Homo sapiens: one gene and its partners. The protein of the gene in region 2 interacts with the protein of the main gene of each other region in a biochemical or structural test. Each region holds a gene or a part of one and is shown on either strand. Other genes may lie near its edges. The genes, in order: ERBB3, ABL2 and CRK.

Region 1 (3,651 bases), on a different chromosome or scaffold from region 2:
TGGAAAGGAAGGGGTGGGTTAGGAGAGGAGTCTGAGGACTCCCAGCAAGCCCTCTCTTCATTATTCTTCCTCGTTACTGCTTCCAGCCTAACAGCCCCCTTCTCCTTGGTTCCATCCCTCAACCCTACTCCCACGTCTAGGGCAGAATAGTCCTTTCAGCCCTCTCCTCCCTGACTCCCTATTCTCACCACCTAGCAGACCCTTTCCCTCACCGCAGTCTCTGCGCGGCCGATTATGCTTGATGTCTAGTCGCTCTTCCGTAGGCCCCCGAAGCACCTTGGTCCAGTTCAAAGAGTGGTGGTAGCAGAGCTGCCTATTGGCACTTATATAGATACGCCCAGCACTAATTTCCTTCAGGGATCGGAAGCCCAGAGATGTGACATTCAAGTTCTTCATGATCAACAATGAGAAGCCCCGGCTGAGAATAAGGAGACAGGATGAGAGGAGAGACTACTAAGGGAACATTAACTATTCAAAGGATTCATGTTAGTCAAGAAATTTGCTCAGTGCTAGTCAGATCCACTGAGAGGGAATCCCCCTCCTTTTGCCTTTTCCTCGTGAAACTCTGAAACCCTTTGGTTTTGAGGCACTGCTGTATGAGACAGTGCCTTGTATTTTACTAAAGAATGCCTATGACACAGGCTTCATTGCCTGAAGATGCCATTTCCTCCATACCCTTTACTCACTTGTAGAGGCTTCTGCCTCCAATGGTTGTCAAATTGGAAAAAACACTGAAGTTGTGCATGTGGGGCGGCCAGGACTGGATGTTCAGGTAACCTGAGGGGTTGGAGAGAGGCATATGGGCAGGGAGCCTTCTTCTTTCTTGGGTTCTCCTGGCTCCTCCCCTATAACTTGGGACGTGATTTTCTCAAGTAGTTATACCGCAATTTATGCCAGTGGTTCACCTATTCTTCTAGAAAGGGCAAACTCTCTGCCACTCACCTGTGATCTCCCGTACTGTCCGGAAGACATTGAGCTTCTCTGGGTCCAGGGCAGGGATCTTGTGCCAGGGGTCTCTGAATAGAACAGTAGAAACCAGTCAATAAGGTAAAGGTATAACTCAATGGCAATGAGCACACCCAGCCTCAGCATTTGGTTTCTAAATATCATTCTCCACTAAAAGGAAACATTCCTTGGAGAAATGGCTGGGATGGGGGAAATATAATATAAGCCCAGAGCATCTTGTGCAAACAAGACAAGACTCAAAGAATTAAGGGTACAGCCCAAAGAACACAGGAGCCAACTTGGAGGGGCTGGCTAAAATAAATAATGATTGTAAAGGATTATAACCATTGACTAGAATAAAATAAGTATCCATAAGAGTAAATAGGAAAGGAAGACCTTTTTTTTTTTTTTTTTTTTTTTTTTTTTTTGAGACAGAGTCTTGCTCTATCGCCCAGGCTGGAGTACAGTGGCAGCAATCTCAGCTCACTGCAACCTCCACCTCCTGGGTTCAAGTGATTCTCCTGCCTCAGCTTCCTAAGTAGCTGGGAATACAGGAGCACACCACCATGCCTGGCTAATTTTTTGTATTTTTAGTAGAGACAGGGTTTCACCATGCTGGCCAGGCTGGTCTTGAACTCCTGACCTTGTGATCCGCCCGCCTCGGCCTCCCAAAGTGCTGGAATTACAGGCATGAGCCACTGCACCTGGCCTTTTTTTTTTTTTTTTTTTAAGAGACAGGGTCTCACTCTGTTGTGCAGAGTGAGTGCACTGGCTGGAGAGCAGTAGTGCCATCATAGCTCACTGTAACCTTGAACTCCTGGGCCCAAGCAATTTTCCCACTGGCTCCCAAAGGGCTGAGATTACAGGCATAAGCCACTGTGCTCAGCTGGAAAGACTCTTCCTAACAGTAGAATGCCAACAAACAAATGCAGAAGGAATAATGGAATTAGAAAATTATCATTTGGCAACTATCATAACAATAATTGATTCAGGCAATTATCCCAAGACATTCATTAATTGTGAATGGAAAAATAGTAACTTTACAGTAGAAAAACCTGACAGATATCACCTTAACTAAGTGACCAGAGACATCATTGTGAGTGCTGGGACAAATCAACATCACGTACATCCTCAATAGGATGCCCTGAGCTCACAGCCTCTGTGGTGTTCTTATCAAACTCCAGCCTGGCAGCGGCGCATGCCTATAATCCCAGCACTTTGGGAGGCTGAGACAGGAGGATCACTTGAGCTCATGAGTTCGAGACCATCCTGGACAACATGGTGCAACCCTGTCTCTATAGAGAATGGCTTGAACCTGAGAGGTGGAGGTTGCGTGAGCTGAGATCACGCCACTGCACTCCAGCCTGGGCAACAAGAGCGAGACTCCGTCTCAAAAAAAAAAAAAAATATATATATATATACACACACATATATAAATATATAAATAGTATATAATATTTATGTTTATATATATTTATATATATTATTTATATATATATATTTATATTTATATATATTATTTATATATATATATATATATATATATATATAAAATTAGCCAAGCATGGTGGCATGCACCTGTAATCCCAGCTACTCAGGGGGCTGAGGTGCTCGCTTGAGCACGGGAGGCAGAGGTTGCAGTGAGCTGAGATCATGCCACTGTATTCCAGCCTGGGCAATAGAGCCAGACCTTGTCTCAAAAAAAAACTACAAAAACTTGAATCTAATCATGAGGACACATCAAACTAATCCAAACTGAAGAACATGCTGCCCATTACCTAATCTATACTCATCAAGAATATCATGAAAGATAAACAAAACCTGAGGAGCTGTTATAAAGGAGATTGAAGTGCCACGATAACTGAATGTAATGTATGATCCCAAACCTTAGGAGGACAATTAGTGAAATCTGAATAAGGTCTGTAGCTTAGATAATATTTTGTGTTAATGTTAATTTTCCGATTCAAACAACTATGCTGTGGTTATGTAAGAAAATATTATTTTTAAGGAATATACGCTGAAATATAACAGGGGTAAGAAAGAACCATGTGTGAAAATTTACCCTCACGTGGTCCAGAAAAACAATAGCATGTGTTTTGTGTGTGTGTGTGTGTGTGTAGAGAGAGACAGAGAGAGAGAGAAGTGATAAAGCGTATGTGGTATTTTTTTTGGCGGGGGACAGAGTCTCGCTCTTTCACCAGGCTGGAGTGCAGTGCCGCGATCTCGGCTCACTGCAACCTCTGCCTGCCAGGTTCAAGCTATTCTCCTGCCTCAGCCTCCTGAGTAACTGGGACTACAGGCGCACACCACCACGCCCAGCTAATTTTTGTATTTTTAGTAGAGATGAGGTTTCACCATGTTGGCCAGGATGGTCTCAATCTCTTGACCTCGTGATCCACACCTAGTGATCCACCTGCCTCAGCCTCCCAAAGTGCTGGGATTATAGGCATGAGCCACTGTGCCCGGCCATATGTGGTATGTTAACATTTGGAGGATCTGGGTAAAAGAGTGTATGGGGGGCCAGACGCGGTGGCTCACACTTGTAATCCCAACACTTTGGGAAGCTGGGGCGGGTGGATCACTTGAGGTCAGGAGTTCGAGACCAGCCTGGCCTACATGGTGAAACCCTGTCTCTACTAAAAATACAAAAATTAGCCGGGCATGATGGCACACACCTATAATTCCAGCTACTCAGGAGACTGAGGC
Region 2 (3,651 bases):
ATAGTGGCTGGGCACATAGTATGAGCTAAATGTGTGTAGCTGCTGCCATTACTAATACTACTGTTATTATTAAAAACAGGAGTAATTCGGCCAGGTGCGGTGGCTCACGCCTGTAATCCCAGCACTGTGGGAGGCCGAGGTGGGCAGATCATGAGGTCAGGAGTTCGAGACCAGCCTGAGCAACATGGTGAAACCTCGTCTGTACTAAAAATAGAAAAATTAGCTGGGCATGGTGGCACGCGCCTGTAGTCCTAGCTACTCAGGAGGCTGAGACAGGAGAATCGCTTGAACCCGGGAGGTGGAGGTTGCAGTGAGCCAAGATCGCGCCACTCCAGCCTGGGTGACAGAGCGAGACTCTGTCTCAAAAAAAAAAAAAAAAAAAAAGTAGGGATAATTCAAAGATGACACCAGGATTTAGAACCTGGCTAACTGGGATGATGAAGATTCTATTGACAAGTTTGGAAGTTAGAAGCTGATTGAAAAAATGGGAATAGGTCGAGTTTATTGCCAAAGACTAGTATGAAAAGAAAGGAATTAGCAAATAATATAGGAAACAAAGGTGCAGTGAGTACTGTTTTTTAGACAGATGGGTTTAAAAAGTTTTTTTCTGTACATCATAGTTTCTTTTTTTTTTTTTTTTTTTTTTTTTTTGAGGCGGAGTCTCACTCTGTCGCCCAGGCTGGAGTGCAGTGGCGCGATCTCGGCTCACTGCAAGCTCCGCCTCCCGGGTTCACGCCATTCTCCTGCCTCAGCCTCCCGAGCAGCTGGGACTACAGGCACCTGCCACCACGCCCGGCTAATTTTTTTTTGTATTTTTAGTAGAGACAGGGTTTCACCGTGTTAGCCAAGATGGTCTTGATCTCCTGACCTCATGATCCGCCCTCTTCGGCCTCCCAAAGTGCTGGGATTACAGGCATGAGCCACCGCTTCCGGCCACGTCATAGTTTCTTAACCTCGGCGGCATTGATATTTTGGGCTGGCTAATTCTGTGTTTTGGGGGGCTGTCCTGTGCATTGTAGGATGTTTAGCAGCATCCCTGGACTCTACCCACTAGATGCCAGTAGCACCTTCTTTTTGCCCCTTACTTGTTATAAAAATGCCTCCAGACATTGTTAAATCTCTTGGGGGGCAGAATTGCCCCTAGTTGAGGACACCACTTAGAAATGTGATAGATTCTGAATTGAATGAATGAATGAATGAATTAGATTCGAAAGCTTCTCAGTGGATGTATCATTTGACCTTTACATGGTAAATGTAGGTGCTCGAATCTAGTGTACAAATTACTGTCTTGAGTTTGCCATATTGAGGTATTAGCACATAATTTCATATATGAATGTTAGGTCTGTTAGACTCTTGGGTTTACATGTAGGTTTTAATATAAGCCAAATAATACATTTAGTTAATCAGTAAAAAGGTACATACATTATGGAAATGGTTTATCAGAGTCCAGGACTTTTCTTTCTTTAGCTAAAATGGTCATTTTTTATCGTTAATAATATGTGGGTAAGCTGTGATAATAATTTGCCTTGCCAAAAGTGATTTTTGTGAATGTAATTTAGAAGGAACAAAAATAATAGAGCCATTTTTGGTATGAAAGGAGTGAGTGCTGTGTGACTTTTCTGAGATCTGCTATTTTTTTTGTCAACTCTTTTATTTTATGTTTTATTTTAGAGAAAGGTCTTGCTCTGCCACCCAGGCTGGAGTGCAGTGCTGCGATCGTAGATCGCTGCAGCCTTAAACTCCTGGACTCAAGCAATCCTCCTGCCTCAGCCTCCCGAGGAGCTGAGACTACAGGCACACGCCATCACACCTGGGTAATTTTGTGTTTTTTTTTTTTTTTTTGTAGAGACGGAGGTCTCACTATGTTGCTCAGGCTGGTCTCAAACTCCTAGGCTCAGGTGATACTCTGCCTCGGCCTCCCAAAGTGCTGGGATTATAGGCGTGAGCCACTGCGAGAGGCAAGCTCTGCTATTAAACCTTTCTGGTGAGCTGATGTTTCATGACTAATAATCTAGGGTTGAATACTTACTTGCTGTTGAATATCTCACATACCTTTTAACAGCTGAATGATTTTACTTTAGCTTCCCTCTCTCATTTTCTAAAAATTCTATTAAAAATTAACTTTAGGCTGGGCGTGGTGGCTCACACCTATAATCCCAGCACTTTGGGAGGCCGACGTGGGCAGATCACCTGAGGTCAGGAGTTCGAGATCAGCCTGGCCAACATGGTGAAACCCTGTCTCTACTAAAAAAATACAAAAATTAGCCAGGTGTGGTGGCGGGCACCTATAGTCCCAGCTACTCAGGAGGCTGAGACAGGAGAATCCCCTGAACCCCGGAGGCGGAGTTTGCAGTGAGCCGAGATCGCGCACCTGCACTCCAGCCTGGGCGACAGAGCAAGACTCCGTCTCCAAAAAAACCAACAAACAAAAACCCTTACATTATGAAGTTTGGAATAACAAAAATTTTTCCTTAAATCAAACTCATTATTTTAAGTGATCTGATTTATTTATTTATTTTTTATTTTGGATCTGTAGTTTTTTTTTTTTTTTTTTTTTTTTGTAGTGAGTAGGGTCTCACTCTCTTGCCCAGGCTGGAGTGCATTGGCGAGATCATGGCTCACTGCAGCCTTGACCTCCCAGACTCAAGTGATCCTCTCACCTCTCAGCCTCCTGAATACCTGGGACTATAGGTGCACGCCACCATGCCTTTCTATTTTTTTTTTTTTTTTGTAGAGACAGAGTTTTGCCATGTTGCCCATGGTGGTTTTGAACTCCTGGGCTCAAGTGATCTGCCTGCCTTGCCCTCCCAAAGTCCTGAGATTACAGGTGTGAGCCACCGCACCCGGCCAGTAGTTCATGTTTTAATCTTTGTGGAATGAAGGCTGTTGGCACCCCAGGTTGAAAACGATGCTATGGAAAGCACAGGAAGGCTGTTGTGAGGGAATTTTAATTGTGGTGACTTAATATAAGAACTAAACTTCATTTTTTATTTTTATTTATTTTTCTTTTTTTCTTGAGTGCCAATCCTGCAGACTAAACTTTTAAAAAAAAATCAGCTGTTAGATTTTTATTAATCTCCAAATCTGTGTAAGTTATAGATGTGTAGTTGGGGTCCATATTTTTAGCAAAGTAATAAGTTGTGGTACAGATTCTGTTCTCATAGCCCACTTGGCAGTAAAATTCCAAGTAAAGTGATGAAGTCTGAAGTTTCTCTGTAAGGGTCTTCAGCCTGCTTTATTCGATAGTTTATTTATTTACTTAGGTGGTTTTTTTTTTTTTTTGAGACAGGGTCTTGCTCTGTTGCCTAGGCTGGAGTGCTGTGGCATGATGATAGCTCACTGCAGCCTCAAACTCCTGGCTGAAGCCATTCCTGACTCAGCCTTCTGGGTAGCTGGGACTATAGGTGCGTGCTACCATGCCTGGCTAATTTTTAAATTTTTCTGTAGAGATGGGGTCTTGCTGTACTGGGCCAGGCTGGTCTTAAATTCCTAGGCTCAAGTGATTCTCCCACCTTGGCCTCCCAAAGTGCTGGGATTACAGACATGAGGCCCTGCATCTGGACTTTTTTTTTTTTTTTTTTTTTTGAGAGGGAGCCTTGCTCTGTCTCCCAGCCTGGAGTGCAGTGGCGCGATCTTGGCTCACTGCAACCT
Region 3 (3,651 bases), on a different chromosome or scaffold from region 2:
TAAGGCCCAACCCAGGATCCACAGCTCAAGCTTATAACGACTCTCCTAACTCACACTCCTTCAGCTGTGTCAACCTGAAAGGTTTAGCTGTTCAAGAGAAAAAAAACTAGTTTCTTGCAAGCATTCCAAGGAGGTCCATCTTGAAGCCCAACCTGACAGAATGTGACCAGTAGACTTGGCCAAGCCCTTCCTTATGGCCCCAGGGAACTCCCAAGCTATGGCACCACAGGAAGCCTATGCAAGCTGAGGACCCAAGACAAGTTAAAAACAGGTTCAACGGAAAAGGCTGAGAATCACTGGCCCATTCTGTACCCATGCCTTTAAAAATAATACCCAGCTGCGCACGGTGGCTCACGCCTGTAATCCTAACACTTTGGGAGGTCAAGGCAGGTGGATTACTTGAGGTCAGGAGATCGAGACCAGCCTGGCCAACATGGTGAAACCCCCATCTCTACTAAAAATACAAAAAAATTAGCTGGGAGTGGTGGCGCATGCCTGTAATCCCAGCTACCTACTCAAGAGGCTGAGGCAGGAGAATGGCTTGACCCGGGAGGGGGAGGTTGCAGTGAGCTGAGATCGTCCCACTGCACTCCAGCCTGGGCAACAGAGCAAGACTCTGTCTCAAAACATAAATAAAGTTTAAAAAATAAGGCGCGGTGGCTCAGGCCTGTAATCCCAGCACTTTGGGAGGCCAAGGTGGGCGGATCACGAGGTCAGGAGCTCAAGACCATCCTGGCTAACACGGTGAAACACCTCTCTACTAAAAATACAAAAAATTAGCCGGGCATAGTGGCGGGCGCCTGTAGTCCCAGCTGCTCAGGAGGCTGAGGGAGGAGAATGACGTGAACCCGGCAGGCGGAGCTTTCAGTGAGCCGAGATCGCGCCACTGCCCTCCGGCCCGGCGTGGGCGACAGAGCGAGATTCTGTCTCAAAAAAAGAAAAAAAACACATAAAAATGACACCTAAGCCATTCCATATAATTTTCACCTATGCACTGTGTAAACAAAATATACTCTGTAGGCTAGATGCGATGGCTCACACCTGTAATCCCAGCACTTTGGGGAAGCCGAGGCGAGCGGATCACTTGAGGCCAGGAGTTCAAGACCAGCCTGGACAACGTGGCAAAACCCCGTCTGTACTAAAAATACAAAAAAATTGGCTGGGCATGGTGGCGCATGCCTGTAATCCCAGCTATTTGGGAGACTAAGGCAGGAGAACTGCTTGAACCCAGGAGGTGGAGGGTACAGTGAGCTGAGATCGCGCCACTGCACTCCAGACGGGGCAACAAGAGCGAAACTCCCTCTCAAACAAAACAAAACAAAACAAATAGGCCGGGCGCGGTGGCTCACACCTGTAATCCCAGCACTTTAGGAGGCCGAGGCAGGCAGATCACAAGGTCAGGAGATCGAGACCATCCTGGCTAACACGGTGAAACCCCATCTCCACTAAAAATACAAAAAATTAGCCGGGCGTGGTGGCGGGCGCCTGTAGTCCCAGCTACTCGGGAGGCTGAGGTAGGAGAATGGCATGAACCCCACGGGGCGGAGCTTGCAGTGAGCCGAGGTCGTGCCACTATACTCCAGCCTCGGTGACAGAGCGAGAAACTGTCTCAAAAAAAAAAAAAAAAAAAGCAATAACAATTTTAAAAAGCTTCTTCATCATTGACTTTAGATAGCAGATGTGTATTGTCTGAATAATAAAGCCAGTGGCACGATCTCAGCTCACTGCAACCTCTGCCTCCGGGGTTCAAGCGATTCTCGTGCCTTAGCCTCTCCAGCAGCTAGGATTACAGGCGTCCGCCACCACGCCCAGCTAATTTTTGTATTTTTTAGTAGAAACAAGGTTTCACCATGTTGGCCAGGCTGGTCTCGAACTCTTGACCTCAAGTGATCCACCCTCCTTGGCCTCTCAAAGTGCTGGAATTACAGGCATGAGCCACTGCGCCCGGCCTCTTCTTGCCATTCTTTAATTCTGGTCTTTAAAAAACCTGGGCTGGATGCGGCTGTATGTGCCTGTAGTCCCAGCTACTCACAGCCTGAGTCAGAAGGGCTGCCTGCCCCAAAGTTAAGGGCTGTAGTGCACTATGACTGTGCCTGTCAACAGCCACTGCACTCCAGTTTGGGCAACATAGTGGGGGGAAAAAAAAACAAAAAACACAAGGCCGAGGTGGGCGGATCACCTGAGGTCAGGAGTTCGAGACCAGCCTGGCCAACATGGTGAAACCCCGTGTCTACTAAAAATACAAAAAAAAAAATTAGCTGGGCACAGTGGCACATGCCTGTAATCCCAGCTACTCGGGAGGCTGAGGCAGGAGAATCACTTGAACCTGGGAAGCAGAGGTTTCAGTGAGCCGAGACTGCACCACTGCACTGTAGCAGCCCGGGGGGCAAGAGCGAAACTCCATCCAAAAACAACAAAACAAAAAACACCAAGTCTTAGACTCCAGGGCAGAGGCAAAGTATTGAGGATATTGAGGATACGGACCTCTATGTGCACTGCTGAGATGCCAAAAGAACGCTGGCTTTGAGAGTGTAGTGTAAAAGGGTCAGCTCTCAGGTCAGAATGCCTAGGTTCAACTTCTGAAAGTCATTTATTAGTTGTGTGACCTTAAGCAAGTTACTGAATCTATGAGTGTTTCCTCCTGTATAAAATGGGAATATTTTAATAAATGGAGATCATATTACTTATCTCACTAGATTGTCCTAGACAGTAAGTGAAATAAGGTACATAAAGTACTCAAAGTACCTGGCACAGAATAACCAGTCAATAAACATTAGTTATTAATATTCTATACGCCTCTCTAAAAAATTCAAGAAATTTCTCTGTGTGACTTCAAAAGGACTTGGTGAGGGGGAGAACAAAGATTCAGTACTTAGTACTTGAGATTTGTGAGGTACAAAGTAATTCTGAGGTTATACAGACAGGCCAGGCGCTGGTGGCTCACGTCTGTAATCCCAGCACTTTGGGAGGCCGAGGTGGGTGGATGATCAGAGTTCAGCAGTTCGAGACCAGCCTGGCCAACATGGTGAAACCCCATCTCTACTAAAAAAATACAAAAATTAGCTGAGCATGGTGGTGGGCGCCTGTAATTCCAGCTACTCAGGAGGCTGAGGCAGGAGAATTGATTAAACCTAGAAGGCAGAGGTTGCAGTGGGCCAATATCGCGCCATTGCGCTCCAGCGTGGGAGACAAGAGTAAAAACTCGGTCTCAAAAAGAAAAAAAAAAAAAAAGACAGCAACTGACCAGGCACAGTGGCTCACACCTGCAGTTCCAAAACTTTGGGAGCCTGAAGCATGAAGTCTATTGAGATCAGGAATTTGAGACCAGCCTGGACAATACCGTGAGACCCCTCATCTCTACAAAAAAATTTTCAACAGTTAACCAGGCATGGTGGATACGCCTGGAGTCCCAGCTACTCAGGAGGATGAAGTGGGAGGATGGCTTGAGCCCAGGAGGTCAAGGCTGCAGTGAGCTGTGTTCATGCCACTGCACTCCAGCTTGGGTGACAGAGGCTCTGTCTCAGAAGAGAGAAAAAGACAGCAACTGAATCGTAGAAAATGGGGTACAACATGGCAGAAAGAATTATCACAATACTCGTGAATTTTCCACACCCCATCCATAAACTTTGGCAATCTTCACCGTCTTTCCTC

The links.
Region 1: the proteins of ABL2 (region 2) and ERBB3 form a complex in vitro, tested with the Homo sapiens proteins (2 studies listed by BioGRID and IntAct, with this or other methods).
Region 3: of the proteins of ABL2 (region 2) and CRK, one has a biochemical effect on the other in vitro, tested with the Homo sapiens proteins (2 studies listed by BioGRID and IntAct, with this or other methods).

The regions. Positions count from the first base shown.
Region 1 is NC_000012.12:56,090,112-56,093,762, reverse strand, and holds part of ERBB3 (receptor tyrosine-protein kinase erbB-3 isoform 1 precursor), read right to left. Parts: intron 1,017-3,651; coding exon 943-1,016; intron 778-942; coding exon 687-777; intron 419-686; coding exon 213-418; intron 1-212. UniProt on the Homo sapiens protein: Tyrosine-protein kinase that plays an essential role as cell surface receptor for neuregulins.
Region 2 is NC_000001.11:179,223,044-179,226,694, reverse strand, and holds part of ABL2 (tyrosine-protein kinase ABL2), read left to right. Parts: intron 1-3,651. UniProt on the Homo sapiens protein: Non-receptor tyrosine-protein kinase that plays an ABL1-overlapping role in key processes linked to cell growth and survival such as cytoskeleton remodeling in response to extracellular stimuli, cell motility and adhesion and receptor endocytosis.
Region 3 is NC_000017.11:1,449,582-1,453,232, forward strand, and holds part of CRK (adapter molecule crk), read right to left. Parts: intron 1-3,651. UniProt on the Homo sapiens protein: Involved in cell branching and adhesion mediated by BCAR1-CRK-RAPGEF1 signaling and activation of RAP1.